2 separate regions of the Homo sapiens genome follow, and region 2 is linked to region 1. The links come from fine-mapping of genetic effects on plasma protein levels. A gene starts in region 1. The other region holds a variant in brackets. All regions are shown on one strand. Distances are from middle to middle. Region 1 holds the start of BOLA1 (bolA family member 1). Region 2 overlaps SV2A (synaptic vesicle glycoprotein 2A).

The links. PIP is the chance, under the fine-mapping model, that this variant and not a neighbour inherited with it causes the effect. Protein levels are from antibody-based Olink assays in UK Biobank. Linkage for the fine-mapping came from a reference panel and not from the study's own genotypes, which makes the PIPs less certain.
Region 2: its variant is fine-mapped to the plasma level of the BOLA1 protein (UK Biobank, PIP above 0.99).

Annotation. Positions count from the first base shown.
Region 1 is chr1:149,892,150-149,900,149 of GRCh38, reverse strand. BOLA1 (bolA family member 1) reads right to left here and starts at 582. Exons shown (of 2, transcript NM_016074.5): 1 at 478-582; 2 at 1-140. The coding sequence starts at 90. It overlaps LOC124904412 (a long non-coding RNA gene), which reads left to right and starts at 602. Exons shown (of 2, transcript XR_007066597.1): 1 at 602-672; 2 at 4,429-4,774. RefSeq lists an enhancer at 489-548.
Region 2 is chr1:149,905,039-149,917,024 of GRCh38, reverse strand. SV2A (synaptic vesicle glycoprotein 2A) reads left to right here. Exons shown (of 13, transcript NM_014849.5): 2 at 2,838-3,806; 3 at 5,045-5,225; 4 at 6,048-6,199; 5 at 6,322-6,455; 6 at 7,135-7,224; 7 at 7,454-7,564; 8 at 7,745-7,833; 9 at 8,819-8,983; 10 at 9,192-9,325; 11 at 10,169-10,375; 12 at 10,986-11,145; 13 at 11,828-11,986. The coding sequence starts at 3,185. Among named protein-coding and RNA genes, the nearest start is that of SV2A, 6.8 kb to the left of the region's middle. RefSeq lists enhancers at 5,847-6,346, 6,347-6,848. The variant T/C (reference allele first, on the strand shown) is at 6,677.

The DNA.
Region 1 (8,000 bases):
ACCGATGGCCCCGGATCCCGCGCTGCCCTGGCACAAACAAACGCGGCCAGCCATGGAGACCAGACCCAGGACCAGCCGCCCACTCAGCATGGGCTACGCCAGAGACTCAGACGCCAGGAGTGAGGGTCGGGGCGATCCGCCTGGTGAGAGCACAATGTCAACACCCGCCCCGCGATCCCCGCATCCGCCCTAACCCCACGCCCGGACGTCCACACCAGCTCCTATAGGGAGCCCGCCTTGATGCCACACGGGGAGACCCGAGACACCGCCCCTTTTCTCTACGTGACGTGGTGAATTCGACCTCCAGCTGTGGAAGTGAAGGGACAAGCGAAGATTAGAAAGGCCCGCACGCGAGGCGCGTTCGTTCCTTAGGGGATTTGCAAAGAATGGGCAAAAGTAGGGCATGTGCAACTGCGTACTTGTGGTTGGGCCGAAGCCCCTGTGTTCCCTGTGAAGCCCCGGAGACGCCCCTTCTACCTGCCGCTCAGCCTCGGCCACTGCGATTCCCGCTCAGGGCCAGGACTCTGGACGCTCCGGAGCAAAATGCAGTCCTGGCGCCCTTCCTGAGGCACGCTGGGAAATGGAGTCCTCGCTGCGCGTTGGTAGCACGGGCAGGCACCACGTGGTGCCCTGAGGGCTCATGGGAACTGTAGTCTCGGATTCTCCCCACTGGTAAGGTGGTCAGAAAGTCTGAACCCAGCAATGCAAAGAAAAAGGGAATTCACGCGCAGTTGGGATTGGGATTATTAGATCTATTTTACTGCCAATAGATCTTGTAGATCATCCAGCCCAACTCCTTTATTTTATATGCAAGAAAATGGAAGTCTGATTGAATACATAATTACTGTGCCCCAGACTAGTGCTGGGGACTGGGGAGTCAAGTCAGGCCCTGTTTTCAAGGAGACAACAGAGCACTGAAGACTAACAAGTGAGCGGACAATTGCAATACTGGGTACTAGGTGCTACGATGAGATAAACACAGGATGCTAAGGAGGCAAGTTACCCAGACTTGGCCGGGGTTGGAGAGGTGGAATGGGAGGCGGGCAGAGAATATTTCCGAGATTTAGGGAAACAGTTCAGCAGAAACAACATGAGAATCCATTTCTCAGTCCCTCATAGTGAGGTTTTGGCTTTGGTAGCTGCATGTGTAAAGGACAGGAGGAGAGAGAATTTTGAGGGAGTCTTTCCTTCTGGTGTAGTTAGGGTGTGGTTATGTGTGGTTGGAGCCTAGGGGGCAGCTGATGGTGATGAGTAGGGTACCAGGAGGAGAGGAACGGGCCAGACCACCCCAGGCCTTGTAGCCCTTGTTAGGCAATTTTGTCTTTATCCTAGAAGTAGTGGGAAGCTACTGAGGTTTTAAGCAGGGATGTAACAGGATGTAATTTTTCCAGGATGATTCTTAACTTGTAAAATTATTTAAATTTTATTTTGTATCCTTAATATATTTACATATTTCTAAATGTTTTTCCCCAACTTCTCATTTTGAAAAATGTCAAAGCCACAGAAAAGTTGAATAGTTCAAAGCAACACCCTCTACCTTTCACTTGACCCACCATTTTTTGCATTTATATTTATTTTATACTTGTACATATATACTCATATATTTAAGTACTTTACATATACTTTAAAATATATTTATATGCTTTTTTGGATGAACCATTTGAAAGTAAGTTGCAGATAGCATGACATTTCACCCCTAACTACTCCAATATGTATCTCCTAAGAACAAAGATATTCTCATACATAACCACAATAACCTTATCACACTCAAGAAATTTAAACTATGACATACACTGTTTTCCCTAGCCTTTAAAAAAAATTAAAACTTCCAGAAAATTTGCAAGATTAATACAATGAGCAACCCATTTATCCACTCTTCACCTAGGTTCACTGATAAGATTTTGCCAGACTTGGCTTTGTATCTCTTTTAATGTATGTGTGTATAATAATAATGAAATAATAATAATTATTTCTGCTGAATCACTTGAGTTAGGTGCAGAAATCTTATTTATTTATTTTTTTTTGAGATGGAGTTTTGCTCTTCTTGCCCAGGCTGGAGTGCAATGGCGTGATCTTGGCTCACTGCAACCTCTGCCTCCTGGGTTCAAGCAAGTCTCCTGCCTCAGCCTCCTGATTAGCTGGGATTACAGGCATGTGCCAACATGCCCGGCTAATTTTGTATTTTTAGTAGAGACGGGGTTTCTCCATGTTGATCAGGCTGGTCTGGAACTCCCAACCTCAGGTGATCCACCCTCCTCGGCCACCCAGGATTACAGGGATTACAGGCGTGAGCCACTGCGCCTGGCCCAAAATTCTTTTTTTTTTTTTTTTTAAACAGAGTCTCACTCTGTTGCCCAGACTGGAGTGCAGTGGCGCCATCTTGGCCCACTGCAACCTCCACCTTCTGGGTTCAAGTGATTCTCCTGCCTCAGCCTCCTGAGTAGCTGGGACTACAGGCTGGTGCCACCATACCTGGCTAAATTTTTTTGCATTTCTAGTAGAGATGGGGTTTCACCATGTTGGCCAGGCTGGTCTGGAACTCCTGACCTCAAGTGATCCTCCTGCTCTGGAACTCCTGACCTCAAGTGATCTGCCTGCCTCAGCCTCCCAAAGTGATGGGATTACAGGCGTGAGCCACTGCACCCAGCCACAAAATTCTTTTTTTTTTTTTTGAGATGGAGTTTCGCTCTTGTTGCCTAGGCTGGAGTGCAATGGTGCGATCTTGGCTCACAGCAACCTCCGCCTCCTGGGTTCAAGCGATTTGCTTGCCTCAGCCTCCCATGTAGCTGGGATTACAGGCGTGCGCCACCACTCTGGCTAATTTTGTGTTTTTAGTGGAGACGGGGTTTCTCCATGTTGGTCAGGCTGGTCTTGACTCAGGTCATCAGTCCGCCTCGGCCTCCCAAAATGCTGGGATTATAGGCGTGAGCCACTGCGCCTGGCCCCACAAAATTCTTTACACTTAATTGCTATGTACTTTCAATGTGTATCTCCTAAGAACAAGGACATTTTCATACATATCCACAATACCATTACCACATCCAAGACATTTAACATTCATACAATACTATAATCACATACAGTTGATATTCAGATTTCCCCAACTGTCTCATTGGTGTCTACTATAGTTTGAATATGTCTCCTCCAGAATTCATGTTGAAAATTAATCCATGGTGTTGGTATTAAGTGGTGGGGCCTTTAGGAGGTAATAAGGCTATGAGGGCTCCACCCTCAAGAATGGACTAACGCCTTTTGAAAGAGCTTGAGGGGGTAAGTTGGCCCCTTCTGTCCCTTCTGCCATGTAAGGTCACCTCGATGGCGTATCTATGAGGAACTGGCCTTCACTAGATACCAAACCTGCCAGTGCCGTAATCTTGGACTTCCCAGCCTCCAGAACTGTGAGAAAATACATTTCTGTTTATAAATTACCCAGTCAGTGGTATTTTGTAATAGCAGCACAGTCTAAGTAAACATTATAAATGTTTAATTTTCAGAAACCAATCAAGGATCATGCATTGCATTTAGCTGACTTTAAGTTTGTATTCTGCAAAGATCACTGGCTTCAGGGTGGAGAATGGATTGTAGAGGAGGCAAGAGTGGAAACAGGGAGACAAGTTGGGAGGTTACTGTAGCAGTCTAGGTGAGAGATGATGATGATTTGGACCAAGGTGGTGGTGGTGGTGGTGGAAATGGAGAGAAATTGTGGCTACAGGATGTATATTAGGAAAGTAAAACCTACAGGGTGTGGTAATGGCTTGGTTGTGGGAGGGAAAGTGTCAAGGATAATTACAAGGTTTGTGCATCTAAAGTTAAAAAAAACAGTTCAAATAATTCCTGTATATCCTTTATCCTGATACCTAGATTACCCAAATATTAACAATTCACTGTTTGTTTTATTTGTATGTACCTATCTACAAATATATAATTATTTTCTGGACTGTTTGAGACTAAGTTTCAGAGATAAAGCCTATTAAACTCTACCTGTGATGGTTAACTTTTTTTTTTTTTTTGAGATGGAGTCTCACTCTGTCGCCCAGGCTGGAGTGCAGTGATGCAATCTTGGCTTACTGCAACCTCTGTCTCCTGGGTTCAAGTGATTCTTGTGCCTCCGCCTCCTGAGTAGCTGGGATTACAGGCGTGGACAATGGCGCCTGGCTAATTTTTGTATTTTTAGTGGAGAGGGGGGTTTCACCATGTTGGCCAGGCTGGTCTCAAACTCCTGACCTCAGGTGATCCACCCACCTCAGCCTCCCAAAGTGCTGGGATTAGAGGCGTGAGCCACCACGCACGGCCTGTGATGGTTAATGTCCCAACTTCTAGAGGATTGGTGCTCAGATATTTGGCCAAATATGGGTGCTTCTGTGAGAGTATTTTGAATGAGATTAACATTTGAATTGGAGACTGAGTAAATTGCCCTCCCTAATATAGGTGGGTCCCATCCAACCAGTTGAAAGCTTGACTAGAACAAAAGACTGACCCACTCCGGAGTAAGAGAGACTTCCTTCTGCCTGACTGCTTTGAGACCCGGACATTGGCTTTTCTCAGCCTTCAGACTCAGAAGTAAACACTGGCTCCATCTGGGTCTTAGACTCGGCCTTTGGACTGGAACTACACCATTGGTTCTCAGGCCTTTGAACTTGGACTGGAACTATATCATCAGTTCTCCTGGGTCTCCAGCTTGCCAACTTACCCTGAAGATCTTGGGGATCTTGGGATTTATTAGCTTCCATAATCAAAAAGCCAATTTTTTATAATAAAACTATCTATCAAAATATCTACCATTCGTTCTGTTTCCCTGGAGAATCCTGACTGATGTATATTTACTTAAAAAAAAAAATTTTCTCACATAGCCGGAATATAACTGTCAGACTCTAGAAATGAACACAGATACGGTACTATTATCTAATCTACAGACCTTATTCAAAATTTGCCAATTGTTCCACTACTATCATATATATAAAATGAAAAGAAATATCTTCTGGTCCAGGATCCAATCTAGGATGACGTGTTGCATTCAGTTGTTATATTTCTTTGTTCTCCATTAACTTGAAATAGTTTCCTAGATTTTCTTTGTCTTTCATGACTTTGGTAATTTTGAAGTTACAGACATTTATTTTGTAGAATGTCCCTCAATCTGGGTTTGTCTGATGTTTCTTTATGATTAAAATTTAGCACATGCATTTTTGGCTGGAATACTGCAGAAGTAATGTTGAATTCTTCTCTGTGAACCTTACCAGGGCACGTGATCTTTTTGTTATTACTAGTGATAGTTCTGATCACTTGATTAAGATGGTATCTGTCAGGCTTTTCCACTATAAAATTCCTTTTCTGTCTGTAATTGTGGAAGATACTCTAAGTGTATCTACTTTCCTAATTCTCATTAAGTTTTTTCCCACTAATTTTAGCATGTGAGAAGTATATTTGAGACATCTCTTAGTTAGGGGTTGTTGAAGATGAAATGAGATCATGGGGGTGGGGCTGGGGTGTGGTATGTGATCACCTGGGGAGAGAGTGTACAGTGAGAAAAGAATCAGAATGTCTATTAGAAAGGCCACTCTGGTGAGGAGTGGGAAGAGTAGAAGCAGGGAGAGGAGTAGAAAAGTCTTTGTTGGTAGTCTGGGTGAAAGATAACCTGAGTGAAGGCACGAGATGGGCTAGAGAGAAGTACATTGATTAGAAAGCTGCTACAAAGATGGCATCTATAGGACCTGCTTTGGTTAGGACCTTGCAGTTTGCAAATCCAGTGACAGTGTTAGGCAGAGGTAGGAGGCTGAGGTCAGGGAAAGCCTAGGTGTGAAGGTAACATTGAAACAGAAATTTGAATGACTAGAGGGAACTAACCACGTGGAAAGAGAGATCCAGGCACAATGAATGGTATATTCACTATATTCTAGATGTGTGATGCCAAGCTCAGTGTTGACATACTTAGGTGTTCAATAAGATATATTGGATGGATGAGTGAATTGATGTATGAATGGAGACGGCAACTTCACTATTATTGCTGTCGTAAAAATAAACGAAAGCTTTGCAAGTTGCGAGCTCCACAGGGCAAGCTTATTGTCTTTGTTTCTAATAAAAATATAGTCATAATAATATCTACTATTTAATGAAGGTCTGTCGTGGTCAGATTAAGGCTTTTAGAGGCTTTAAGCACCGAGAGATTATGTTAGCCACCTCATACACAATTAAACAAAACAACCAAACAATAATAAACACTCATTTGTAACATGAGGATTGGGATGCCCAACAAAGTACTCATTGTTTTCCCCATGATGACTCCTTCAATTTTGTTTATATTTAAAAATTGTGCTTACTGAGGTATGATGTACATGTAAGAGATTTATAAATCTAGGCCGGGCGTGGTGACTCACGCTTGTAATCCCAGCACTTTGGGAGGCCAAGGAAGGTGGATCACTTGAGATCAGGAGTTCGAGACCAGCCTGGCCAACATGGTGAAACCCCCTCTCTACTAAAAATACAAAAATTAGCTGGGCGTGGTGGCAGGCACCTGTAATCCCAACTATTTGGGAGGCTGAGGCATGAGAATTGGCTTGAACCCGAGAGGCAGAGTTGCAGTGAGCTGGGATCACGCCACTGCACTCCAGCCTGGGTGACAGAGGGAGACTGTCTCAAAAACAAACAAACAAAAAAACCCCTATAAATCTTAAATGTAGAGCTGAATTTTACATATGAATATGCCTATATCAAGATAAAGAAAATTCCCAGCACCTCAGAAGACTTCCAGGGAAGTCAGTATTACCCTGCCACAGTTAATCATTAGTCTCATTATTCTAACCTTTATCACCATAGATTACTTTTTGTTTGTTTGTTTTTGAGACAGAGTCTCGCTCTGTTGCCCAGGCTGGAGTGCAGTGGTCCGATCATGGCTCACTGCAACCTCCACCTCCTGGGTTCAAGCGATTCTCCTGCCTCAGCCTCCTGAGTAGCTGGGACTACACAGGTGCATGCCACCACGCTGGGCTAATTTTTTGTATTTTTAGTAGAGATGGGGTTTCACCATGTTGGCCAGGCTGGGCTCGAACTCCCGACCTCAGGTGATCCGCCTGCCTTGGCCTCCCAAAGTGCTGGGATTACAGGTGTGAGCCACCGTGCCCGGCCTCAGATGCTAATCTCTTTCAGAAATACCCAGAAAAATGGGCCAGGCGTGGTGGCTCATGCCTGTAATTCCATCATTTTGGGAGGCTGAGGCGGGCGGATCACCTGAGGTCGGGAGTTTGAGACCAGCCTGACCAACATGGAGAAACCCCATCTCTACTAAAAATACAAAATTAGCCAGGCATGGTGGCTCACGCCTGTAATCTCAGCTACTTGGGAGGCTGAGGCAGGAGAATCGCTTGAACCCGGGAGGTGGAGGTTGCTGTGAGCCGAGATCACGTCATTGCACTCCAGCCTGGGCAACAAGAGTGAAACTCCGTCTCAAAAAAAACAAAAAACAAAAAACAAAAACAAAACCCAGAAAATGTTTTACTAGCTATTGGGCTAGGCAAGTTGACTCATAAAATGAACCATCATATCCTCCTAATCTAGCTGTGGGGCCTCTCAGGTTCCCAAGCTCTCTACTAGGTTATTTACATTTATTCTCCTTTATTCCAGCAACCGTATTATGGTAGGCTATATTATTATTATTATTATTATTATTATTTTTTGAGACGGAGTCTCGCTTTGTCACCCAGGCTGGAGTGCAGTGGCACGATCTCGGCTCACTGCAACCTCTGCCTCCCGGGTTCAAGCAATTTTCCTGCTTCAGCCTCCTGAGTAGCTGGGATTACAGGTGCCCACCACCATGCCCAGCTAATTTTGTATTTTTAGTAGAGATGGGGTTTCACCATGTTGGTCAGGCTGCTCTCGAACCCCTGACCTCGTGATCCACCTGCCTTGGCCTCCCAAAGTGCTGGGATTACAGGTGTGAGCCACTGTGCCTGGCCTGTATTATTTTTATTTAACTGATGAGCTTCTATCTTCCATCATTCTGTTTACCA
Region 2 (11,986 bases), 15 kb before region 1:
GGGGTGTGGGGGGGTCGCTGCAAATGCTGATAGGGGCGGTCTCTATGTCTGTGCATGCGGAGGTCTCTCCCTGCGTCCCCCTCTCTGCCTCTCCGTATTCCTCAGTGTGCATTCTCAGCTGACACCCTCATTTTTATCCCTCAGAACTGTGGGTGCTCCTATCTTCCTAACCTTGGTAGGATGTGGGGAGGGGAGGCGCAGTCTTGATGGTCCTGGGTGGGGGCTGAAGTTCGATGACCGGGCTGTCATGGGGAAGGGGTGCTCCCGCACCTCCCACATTCTACCCCCGCCCCCGCGGACGTTTTGATAAGTGATTGCTTTTTAATGACCTTGTCACCTGAGCTAGGAAGGCCTGGGGATCTGGGTGGACCCCAAAGTCAGGGGCTTTGACTGGGAGGGTGGGGGGTTCTGGACCCAGGGCTGGATGAGCTGTTCTGAAAGAAAGCATTTGCTCTGGAGTCCCCTGCCTGTCTCCACCCTCTGCAGAAAATCTCCTGGGCACATTTTTTCCTGTCAGGTGAAGTCAGCCAGCCTAGGACCTTGTAACCCTGAACCTTGTCTCCTTTAACCTCCACCTCTCCAAGTCTTGTCTCACTCCCCCAGGCTTAGCCACCCTGTGCTGTTTTGGGGGCTAAAAATAGCACCACTTCCTCACCAGCTCAAAGAATTTGTCTTCTTTCTTTCTCTCCTGACCTCCTGGGCTTGCTGGCCCTGAGGAAGCTGGCTGTTGAGACCTCATATCCTGCTGTGGTTGTGGAAGGCTTCCCTGCCCTACGTGCCCCTCTCAGGGGGAAATAGGGTCAACAAACATAGAGTATGGCTCCTGGTGGGTCCTGCCTCCTTCAGGGCTGGAGGGGAGATCCTGGTTAGGAAAGAGAGGAAAGCTAGCAAATTGCCATGCGCTGAGGGGATTCCGCAGTTCCAGCTCTTTCATGGGGGATGGTTGGGCCCTGAACCATGAAGAAAAGGTGACATAGGGGTCACTGCTTCTGGTCACCGTGGTCCACTGCTTACATCTGTCCTGAGGGGATAAGGCGCTGCTTGCCAGTGCTTCTCTCTGAACCACATAGCATTGCTTACCGTCTTCTACCAGGGCGTGTGTGTGTGTGTGCGTGTGTGTGTGTGTGTGTGTGTTTTAATGAAGGCCCTGGATGGGTGGGAGCACCGGAGGCAGGATATTTTTAGGGGGATGATTTCTGATCAGAATCTAGGCCTGCTTCCTCTGCTCCTATGAAGGAAGGGGGCTATCCCATGCCTTCCTCTGGAGAATGTCTTTTTTGGGGGGACACCCAAACCCCCTTTATTCTACATCCGCCTCCTACGCAATGCGGTGTTTGTGGACTCCTTCTTCCTTGACTCCTGGAGGAGGAGCAGAAAGGATTAAGGGGGATTAGGAAGGGAGGCCCTGGAGGGATGGGATGCAACTGTAGGCCTTAGAACCTCATGTTGGAAATGTATGCATTTGACAGTCATTTCCATTCTCACCCCCATCTGTGGAAAGGGGGCCTATCTATGACATTCTGAAGCAAGGTGGCAGTGGACAGTCATCACCTCTTTCTTAGCTTTCCATCTTTCCTCCACTTTACTTGGGTTCCAGGTCCCCCTTTTCTGGATCTTCCCTTGTTCTTCTGGAGGTAGTTAATGTGGGCCCAGCTACTGGAATTAGTTGAAACATAGATAGGGGTGTCTTGGGACTCTGTTTGCAAGGATGCTGGGCAACAGCATCTAAGTATGACCCCCCTGTTGTCCCTTGCTGCTTCCTGTTTCTTTCCCACTTTCAACATCATAGGAAGGAAGAAAACTAACATAGAGTATCTACTGTGAGATTACATTCTCACATCAACTCCAAGAAACAGTCTCCCAATTTAATTATCCCCAGTTAAAATAGATGGACACTGAGGCTTAGGGAGGTTAACTACCCTGACTGAGATCAGTTAGTAAGTGGCAGAGTTGGGATTTCAACTTAGGTCACCCCTAACAGTCATGTGCTTTGCCCTGAACCAGGATTCTCCTTGCCAGTGTCCCTTCCTGCTGCTCACCCTAAAGAGCATCCAAGATAGCTTTCATCTGGGGACCTTATGAGGTAGTATAGGGCATTTCACTATATTACTGTCACCACAAAATTAATAATTAATATTTATTCATCATTTTTATGTGCCAGGTGACTTATGGTAAGGAGCATAGATACATTATATCATTCGACCCTTACTTTCCCCTTTTTAAACAAGAAGAAACTGAGGCTTGGTCCCTTAGCTAGTATTTGCCAAAACAGGAAGTCAACCCCATGTCTTTGTGACTCTGGAAGCTGAGCATTTACCCATTAGACTATGTTGAGAGAAAATCCCTCCTTGTTGAAGCCTGTAAACATGGGACCTGAGGGAAGGACAGTGGAAGCCCCTGCCTTCAGATGCCATCAGAGGAGGGAAGGCCACAGGTTGGAGGGCTTGTCCTCTTACACATCCTCCTCAACTCCACCCCTAGTAAGAAACCCAGGCAAGACTAAAGAAGGGAATTCTGGTTTCTCATATTTCCTGTTTAGTTCTTTGCAGATTGGTGATAAAGCAAGGGCTGGGGTGGGTTTGGGGGTAGGTGACTGCGACTTTGGAGCAAATTCCACAGGCCAGGCCTCCAAGGTCAAAGTAAGGGGACTTCTATGTGAGTGACCCGGTTAGCCCAGATAGCCATCCCTTTTTAGTGTGTGGATGGGAGCCTAAAGCGAGAAGACCATCTCTGCACCACATGGTCCAGATGGGGCTCTGGGTTGAGAGGCTTTATACTGGCCTTCTTCACCACCTTAGGACTCACAACTTCCTTTTGCTGTCTGTTATTTTTTCTAGGTCTCCAGAGGCTTGTGGAAGAGAAGCAGGCGACCCTTCCTGAGTTATCCTGGCTTAGCCTCCCAATCTGGCTCCCCTTCCCCTTCCCATTCCCCTGCTCCCCCTGTCCCTTCCCCATCCACCCAACTGAACTGGGTATAGGTCAAAGCTCCTCTCCTTCCTTTTCCTTCCTAGGCACTCATTGGCTAGGACCTGTTTGCTCTTTTTTTTGTGCCCAGAGATACTGGAACACGCTTCATCTAAGTAACTGTGGGGAGGGGTCTTTTTGACTCTACAAGTCCTTGAGCAAAAAGCTGAAAAAGAAGCAGGAGGTGGAGAAGACCCAGTGAAGTGCCCCAAGCCCCATCATGGAAGAGGGCTTCCGAGACCGGGCAGCTTTCATCCGTGGGGCCAAAGACATTGCTAAGGAAGTCAAAAAGCATGCGGCCAAGAAGGTGGTGAAGGGCCTGGACAGAGTCCAGGACGAATATTCCCGAAGATCGTACTCCCGCTTTGAGGAGGAGGATGATGATGATGACTTCCCTGCTCCCAGTGATGGTTATTACCGAGGAGAAGGGACCCAGGATGAGGAGGAAGGTGGTGCATCCAGTGATGCTACTGAGGGCCATGACGAGGATGATGAGATCTATGAAGGGGAATATCAGGGCATTCCCCGGGCAGAGTCTGGGGGCAAAGGCGAGCGGATGGCAGATGGGGCGCCCCTGGCTGGAGTAAGGGGGGGCTTGAGTGATGGGGAGGGTCCCCCTGGGGGCCGGGGGGAGGCACAACGACGGAAAGAACGAGAAGAACTGGCCCAACAGTATGAAGCCATCCTACGGGAGTGTGGCCACGGCCGCTTCCAGTGGACACTGTATTTTGTGCTTGGTCTGGCGCTGATGGCTGACGGTGTGGAGGTCTTTGTGGTGGGCTTCGTGCTGCCCAGCGCTGAGAAAGACATGTGCCTGTCCGACTCCAACAAAGGCATGCTAGGTAAGACATGGGGGGCTCCAGCCTTATCCCCTCAAACTCTGGAAACCTCCTTGCTCCTGGAAATTGCTCTTGTCCTTACCACTGGGTTCCCTAGGACCCTGCACCCAAGATGTTCCCAGAGGGCTCAGGGTTCCTCTGCACACTCTTCCCTCACACACTCCCTCTTCTTGGCCTTGGGTCAGGGTGAAGTTGAATGTGACAGAGGGGCTTGCGGGAGGGCAGCTGGACTGGGGCTTGGGCCAGTGGTTGGGTGGTGGTCTGCTTCATTCTGCAGGAGGTGGCTGTGGTAGGATGGTCCCTACCATTTAATGTTTCTTCATAGCTTTCCCTCTGGTTATCCTGTTCCCTTTCACTGATTGGGGAACAAGAAGCCAGTATCCAAACTCCTTGGTATAAATGGGGAGAGTCAGTTTGGGGTGGTTGGGGGAGGGGGGGAGGGTCCTGGATCTTCTGCCAGAGAAGCTGGTTAGACTTTCTCTCACTCAGATGGGAGTTTCCAGGGGACAGGATGTAGTCTTTGATGGCCTTTCCTGACAGGGACTCTGAGGAGGAACCCCGTAGACTCACAGAGAAAGAATCGAGGCCTTACTCTGCCACCAAATTGCCATGGGGTCTTGGACAGGTCTCTTCTTCCTGGGGCTTGGTTTGGGCATGGGAAAATGCAAAGTTTGGAGTAGATGATTTTAAAGATTAATTCCAGCTTTGGTTTTATGAAGGCAGTGAAAAACAGGAGAGTTTTTGGACCAGAAATATTGAGACTGGAAGGAGTAAAGGATGGATTTTGTGTGGGAGATTTCCTGGGAAGATGAAATGAATTGGAGCCCCTTTCCCCAGGAACAAATGAGAGCTCTCCTGCTGCTTTGAGGGATCAAAGCAGGGAGAATAGAGAGGACCCTGGGGTGGTCTGTGATCCTAGGCACACCCATTCCTCCTTCAAAGTGAGCCAGGGGTAAAGGTGTCACTGTGTGTGTGTCAGAGTGAGAAATGAGACAGACCGAAGAGAGTGGAGAGTTTGCAGGTTCTCCCATATCTTCATTCCTGCCTTTGAACCCCTGGCCTGCAGAGATGATCTTCTATCTTTGCTTACACCATTCATTTTCTCTCACTTGCTCTAATCTCTGGGTAGACTTACCTTCTAGAAGTTTTTCAGATCCTTCAGCTCCCTCAGTGCTCATCTCCTGGGAGAATTAAGGTGTGTCTGCTCACACCCCCTCTGCCTGTTTTCCTCCTCCTTCCAGGCCTCATCGTCTACCTGGGCATGATGGTGGGAGCCTTCCTCTGGGGAGGTCTGGCTGACCGGCTGGGTCGGAGGCAGTGTCTGCTCATCTCGCTCTCAGTCAACAGCGTCTTCGCCTTCTTCTCATCTTTTGTCCAGGGTTACGGCACTTTCCTCTTCTGCCGCCTACTTTCTGGGGTTGGGTGAGTGTACACTTCCTAAGTCCCTTGAGGGCAGGACTGTGCCTTGGTCACTGTTGTATCTTTAGGGCCCAGCACAGTGCCAGGCACACCAAATGCACCTTAAATCTGTGTGAGTTGAACGGATGAATGAGTTCCTTTCTCCCCCAGCCATCTTCAGGCCAGCTCCTCCCTGCCCAGGACCTGTCTGCTGCTGTCCAGAATGCTGTTCCTTGGCCCACTCCTGAGTCCTCCACCCCACCTCTAGTTCCATTTTTGAGCCTGCCTCCACAAAGAGGCCTAGTGGGCCTCAGCCCCACCCCTGGGCTCCTGTGGACCCAGAGTTACCCCCTACCAGAGTCTACACATTTCCTGCATTACACAACAAACCTTGCTAACACCCACACCTGCCAGAACCCTGACGCCTTGTCCGCACTGCCCCTTCACTTTTGCAAGCATGGCAGGCCCGCTTACTCTGCTTCAACTCCAAGCTCCTTTCTGGCCATTCCCACAACATCTGCCCTTGGAGGCTTTTGGCTTGTCTTTTTTCTCTGGAGATTTATTCTCTTTTCTGCAATTACTTTCCCGCCCTTCCAACTCTGTAATTCATTTTCAAGATTTAAGATTTGCTCTTTCCCTTTCCCTGAGACTCGCTTGCCTGTTTCCCATGGTCCCAAGGATGGGTGCTTGATGGCTGGCCCACATGGGAGCTTGTAAGGCTTTATGTGTGAGATGGAGTCTCTTCAAAAGCCTGGAAGACAAAAGGGGCTCGGGGTCCAGAGCAGTGGGGCAGGGGATCAGGACTATGGCCATTTGCTAATGCTGAATTCTTGAAATGCACTTCAGGATTGGAGGGTCCATCCCCATTGTCTTCTCCTATTTCTCCGAGTTTCTGGCCCAGGAGAAACGAGGGGAGCATTTGAGCTGGCTCTGCATGTTTTGGATGATTGGTGGCGTGTACGCAGCTGCTATGGCCTGGGCCATCATCCCCCACTATGGTGAGCAGCCCCCGGAAATCCACCCCAGGTTATCTCCCTCCTCCCTCTTCTTCTGTGCTCCCTGTGGTGGGTTCCCCCAGCCTCTGGCCTCTCTGCTGATGCTGTCACTTTCTCCCTACCAGGGTGGAGTTTTCAGATGGGTTCTGCCTACCAGTTCCACAGCTGGAGGGTCTTCGTCCTCGTCTGCGCCTTTCCTTCTGTGTTTGCCATTGGGGCTCTGACCACGCAGCCTGAGAGCCCCCGTTTCTTCCTAGAGGTGATGGGGCTGAGCTGCATGGGGTGGGGTGGGGTGCGGGCTGTGGAGTGTGGACGGCAGCAGGGGCTTCTGTGTTCAAACACCAACTGGAGTTTGATTTGATCCTGTTTGACTGCCTGCCTTCCTCACAGAGTCCACTCTCCAGGGGACTTTATCTTGCATTCTTTGCCTTGGAATGTGTCCCTGAGGGGTTCTTGGGTGGAGAAACCAGGGGACCTCTT[T/C]ACCCATGGATGACTTAAGATTTTGCAGGGAAGGGCCTTGGCCCTGTCCTGCATTTACAGCTCAAGAGACATTCCCACCCCCTATACCTTCCCCTCCTAACCCCAGCAGGATTAGGTCTTTGACTACATGCTTGCCCATCATTTCCCTTACCTTTGGTTTTTACATTCCTCTGTACTATGGAATTCCCAAGACCTGTGCTTGCCTTTTTCCCCTGGACAACACTCCCCACCCCCAACCCGCAGCTCTTGCCCAAGTCTGATTGTCTTGCTATACCTCAGCTTGGGGCTCTTTCAGAGTGGTGAGTGCATGCCCATAGGTCAGGGCTTGGTGGTGGGGTTGAGGGCTGGGAACCATTTAGTGTCCTGTGACTACAGAAGCCAGGTGGGAGGGAGGGGGTCTATAACTCTGGGTCAGGTAGGGGCTGACTTGGATGTGGGGATTGTGTCTTTGGCTCTAGAATGGAAAGCATGATGAGGCCTGGATGGTGCTGAAGCAGGTCCATGATACCAACATGCGAGCCAAAGGACATCCTGAGCGAGTGTTCTCAGTAAGCCACAGCCCTCCCGACTCAGACCTCCACGCCCTGCAGCCCCAGCCCCTACCTGGCCCCTCTCTGAGTACCCCCCACCTCAGACCACACTCTACCGTAAGGAGATTTTCAGGGTATCATATCCACCTCCTGCCTCCCATTTTGCTAATGCAGGGGAAACTGAGGCGCCTGGCCGATGTTGGGAAACACAGAGTGTGTGACTGCCCACCCCTTCTCTTGACCCCAGGTAACCCACATTAAGACGATTCATCAGGAGGATGAATTGATTGAGATCCAGTCGGACACAGGGACCTGGTACCAGCGCTGGGGGGTCCGGGCCTTGAGCCTAGGGGGGCAGGTAATGGTGGACGGGGTGGTAGATAGAAGGGAGTGGGGGAAGTGGAGAAGAAGGCAGGACTGAAGTCTATGTGTGTGGGTGATGGGTGAGCTGAAGGGAGGTGGGAGGGCAGAAAAGTGGGGATCTATGGGTGCTAGAACTTAGTATAGTCAAGGTCTGACTTTGTCTGGTCCCCTGTAGGTTTGGGGGAATTTTCTCTCCTGTTTTGGTCCCGAATATCGGCGCATCACTCTGATGATGATGGGTGTGTGGTTCACCATGTCATTCAGGTGAGGAGATGGGTGGGCTGGGTGATGTGTGGTGGTTGTGGTGGTGTGTGGGCTGGGAGAGAGGTGGGGAGAATGGAGATGCAGGGGACAAGCGATGAGGGAAGGTGCCATGCAGACCCCCTCTGATCCTGCAGCCAGCTCCTCTACTTCGCTAGTTCACTCAACAAACTTGTACTGTAGGCTGACCAGGATTCAGTTTCTATTCTGTGCTGGGATGAAACAGATGTGGTCCAAGGTCCTCCTGGAGTTTATGTTTTGGTTAAGAAGCAGGACGATGAGGCTCGTAATCCCAGCACTTTGGGAGGACGAGGCGGGCGGATCATGAGGTTAGGAGATCGAGACCATCCTGGCTACGGTGAAACCCCGTCTCTACTAACATACAAAAAATTAGCCGGGCATGGTGGTGGGCGCCTGTAGTCCCAGCTACTCTGGAGGCTGAGGCAGGAGAATGGTGTGAATCCGGGAGGCAGAGGTTGCAGTGAGTCGAGATCGCGCCACTGCACTCCAGCCTGGGTGACAGAGCGAGACTCCGTCTCAAAAGAAAAAAAAGAAGTGAGACGAAACTTGCTATGAAGCAGGGTGATGAGAGAAGGGTGGGGGAAGGGCAGTGGGAGCACTTGGGGCTTGGGCTGGGGTGGGGACCTAAGTCCTCAAAGGTGAATGGGAGTCAGACAGGTGGAGTGGGGGTGGCTGGGGTGGAGAAGAGTGTTTTTGGCAGAGGGAAAAGCAAATGCTTGGGAGGTAAGAAAAAGTATAGTGGCTGCTGTGCGAGACCCTGAAGTCCCCCAGGAGCGCAGCAACTGTTGAAGGGAGGAGCAGGGAGAAGCTGGTGAGGCTGGAGAGGAGCAAGGTCCTAACAGAGGTTGACTCCATTTCTCCCTTGTTCTGAGATGATACACATTTCCGTTTTCTCCTCTGCCTGATTCTAATCTCTGAGCCTTGTCTGAAGCCCTGTTGTCTGTTTCCATTGTCCTTGACTCTTCAGCTACTATGGCCTGACCGTCTGGTTTCCTGACATGATCCGCCATCTCCAGGCAGTGGACTACGCATCCCGCACCAAAGTGTTCCCCGGGGAGCGCGTAGAGCATGTAACTTTTAACTTCACGTTGGAGAATCAGATCCACCGAGGCGGGCAGTACTTCAATGACAAGTATGTGGGGACTTTTAAACTTCACTTCTTCCCTGTTCCTTCTACCTCGTCTCTTTTATGAGTCTAGGGGTTCAAGACAAGACATTTGGGGGGCAAACACTTGTGGTTTCTTCTCAATGCCCAGCTTCCCATTACTTCGCTAAAGAGTGAGTCTTGGAGGGGGCATGAGGATGACGGGGGAGTGTCTTTCACCATCCTGGCCTTACAGGTTCATTGGGCTGCGGCTCAAGTCAGTGTCCTTTGAGGATTCCCTGTTTGAAGAGTGTTATTTTGAGGATGTCACATCCAGCAACACGTTTTTCCGCAACTGCACATTCATCAACACTGTGTTCTATAACACTGGTAAGGCGGGGTGGCTGGTGGGTGTCAGACCAAAGGGTTGGGTGGACCTTGATGAGAAGGAACCTTTTTCATTCACTATCTTAGGGTTCTCAAGCTGAGATCCCTGGACCCCTGTGGGAAGGTGGCAGAGGGGCCTGATAGCTACCACCAATAATTCTGAAAATCTAATGGATGTTGGACATTTTCCTGTAATAGAATATCTGACAAAAACATCAAGTTTATTTGCCTTTGGCTGAAATTATAACTCAGTGAGGTAAAATTAATGCACTTTTGAAGAAGGTAAAAATCATCCAAAATAGCATTCTTGGGAAAAAGAAAAACAATCAATAAAAGGGGTATTTGGTGCGGATCATTGCATGAATCCACTCCTTTTTAATAGTGATTCTCAAACTTCAGTATATGCACACGAAATGCTGGTTTTGTGAGCTAGACTGAAATTTCCCACCTCATACTGGGCGAGCTTTTTCCATGTTGCAGGAAAACAACAATGGATAGGACTTTTTATTATTTTAAATGTTTTTCTCAGAAAAATTTCCTAAGTCCACGGCATCGCTACTGCTTATAGTCAGCTAGCACGGACAGAAAGAATGAATAAGCAGCTAAGACTATTAATGGGAGAACTTGGACAAAGTCACACTGTTGGACAGATGATGGTCATTTTCTGCTCTAAAGATCCCTAGTTCCCATGGTGATGTTATTTGATGTTTTGTGATTAGCACTGTGAATAATTTTGAGAGCCCCTCCTACTAACTTTCATACATGCAGAGCCCTGAGCCATAAGCCGTAACAGCCTCCCTCTCCCATCTGCTATGACTGCCTGCTTATCTTGGCCTTTGCCCACAGACCTGTTCGAGTACAAGTTTGTGAACAGCCGTCTGATAAACAGTACATTCCTGCACAACAAGGAGGGCTGCCCGCTAGACGTGACAGGGACGGGCGAAGGTGCCTACATGGTATACTTTGTGAGCTTCCTGGGGACACTGGCAGTGCTTCCTGGGAATATCGTGTCTGCCCTGCTCATGGACAAGATCGGCAGGCTCAGAATGCTTGGTAAGGGGGAGAGGCTGAGTCAGATCTGATAGTAGGGGCCAGGGGCTGCGGGAGGCAGTCAACAGGCTTCTCACCTTGGGCTGTGGAAGAGATTGGTCAGAGAGTTCCTCTCTCATGTTTTCTGTTTAGGGGGTGCTGCAGGATGGGGTGGGGACTGGCACAGAAGCTTCTCTGGGGGTAAAGGAGGTAAGCAGAATTGCAAGTGGTTAGGGCACAGGCTTTGAGGTTATGGGTTTTGAATCTCAGCTCCACCACCTGCCTCTGGCCTCTGGCAAATTACCTCTATGAGCCTGGTTGTTTCCTCTGCAAAATGGAGGTGATAATAGTACCTGTGTCATAGGGTTGATGTGCTAGATCAATGCATGTAAAGCATCAATTGCCTTGGCCCATGGCTGGCATTGAATAAATGATGGTTACTGATATTATTAATAAACAATTATAAGGGAGGTTGAGGAGGAGTGAAAAGCCTTCCTTTTGGATACCTTGGTTGGATACCTTCGGAACAAGTCTCATCCTGGGCTATCTGAAAGCCAGCTGATGGGACAGGGTGGGCTGTGGGTGGGTTTCACTGTGGCCAGGCTCATGTTGCTCTCTCCTCTCCTGGCTCCAGCTGGCTCCAGCGTGATGTCCTGTGTCTCCTGCTTCTTCCTGTCTTTTGGGAACAGTGAGTCGGCCATGATCGCTCTGCTCTGCCTTTTTGGCGGGGTCAGCATTGCATCCTGGAATGCGCTGGACGTGTTGACTGTTGAACTCTACCCCTCAGACAAGAGGTAGTTGGAATGTGTTGGAGGCAGGGCAGTGGATTCAGGGGAGGGGTGGGGTGAGGAAGGAGGGCTGAATGGGAAGAGCATCCTTAGGGGTGAGAGGATATACATTTCCATTTTCTCCTCTAAAATCTGGTAGCTTTGGCCGGGCACGGTGACTCATGCCTGTAATCCCAGTGCTTTGGGAGGCCGAGGCAGGCAGATCACCTGAGGTCAGGAGTTTGAGACCAGCCTGGCCAACATGGTGAAACCCTGTCTGTACTAAAAATACAAAAAGTTAGCTGGGTGCCTGTAATCGCAGCTACTCAGGAGGCTAAGGCAGGAGAATTGCTTGAACCCGGGAGGTGGAGCTTTCAGTGAGCCGAGATCGCACCACTGCACTCCAGCCTGGGCAACAGAGCAAGACTCCGTCTCAAAAAAAAAAAAAAAGGAAAAAAAAATCTGGTAGCTTTTGTATCTACTCCTCAAAGTCTTAACTGTTAACCTCAATTTTTGGTCTCCTTTCCCTTTGTCTCTCAATTTATTTACATTCCTGGTGTACATCCTTTACCTCTCTGATCTCTCCAACCTTCTCTCTCCCTCTTGGACACTGCCTGCATCTTCCTGGACTTCACTTCCCTGCCCTCCACTCTTCCTTTGCCTCCCTCCTGTACCTTGCGCCGTGCTGCACTGGGGGACTCCTGAGCAGGACCACAGCTTTTGGCTTCCTGAATGCCCTGTGTAAGCTGGCAGCTGTGCTGGGGATCAGCATCTTCACATCCTTCGTGGGAATCACCAAGGCTGCACCCATCCTCTTTGCCTCAGCTGCCCTTGCCCTTGGCAGCTCTCTGGCCCTGAAGCTGCCTGA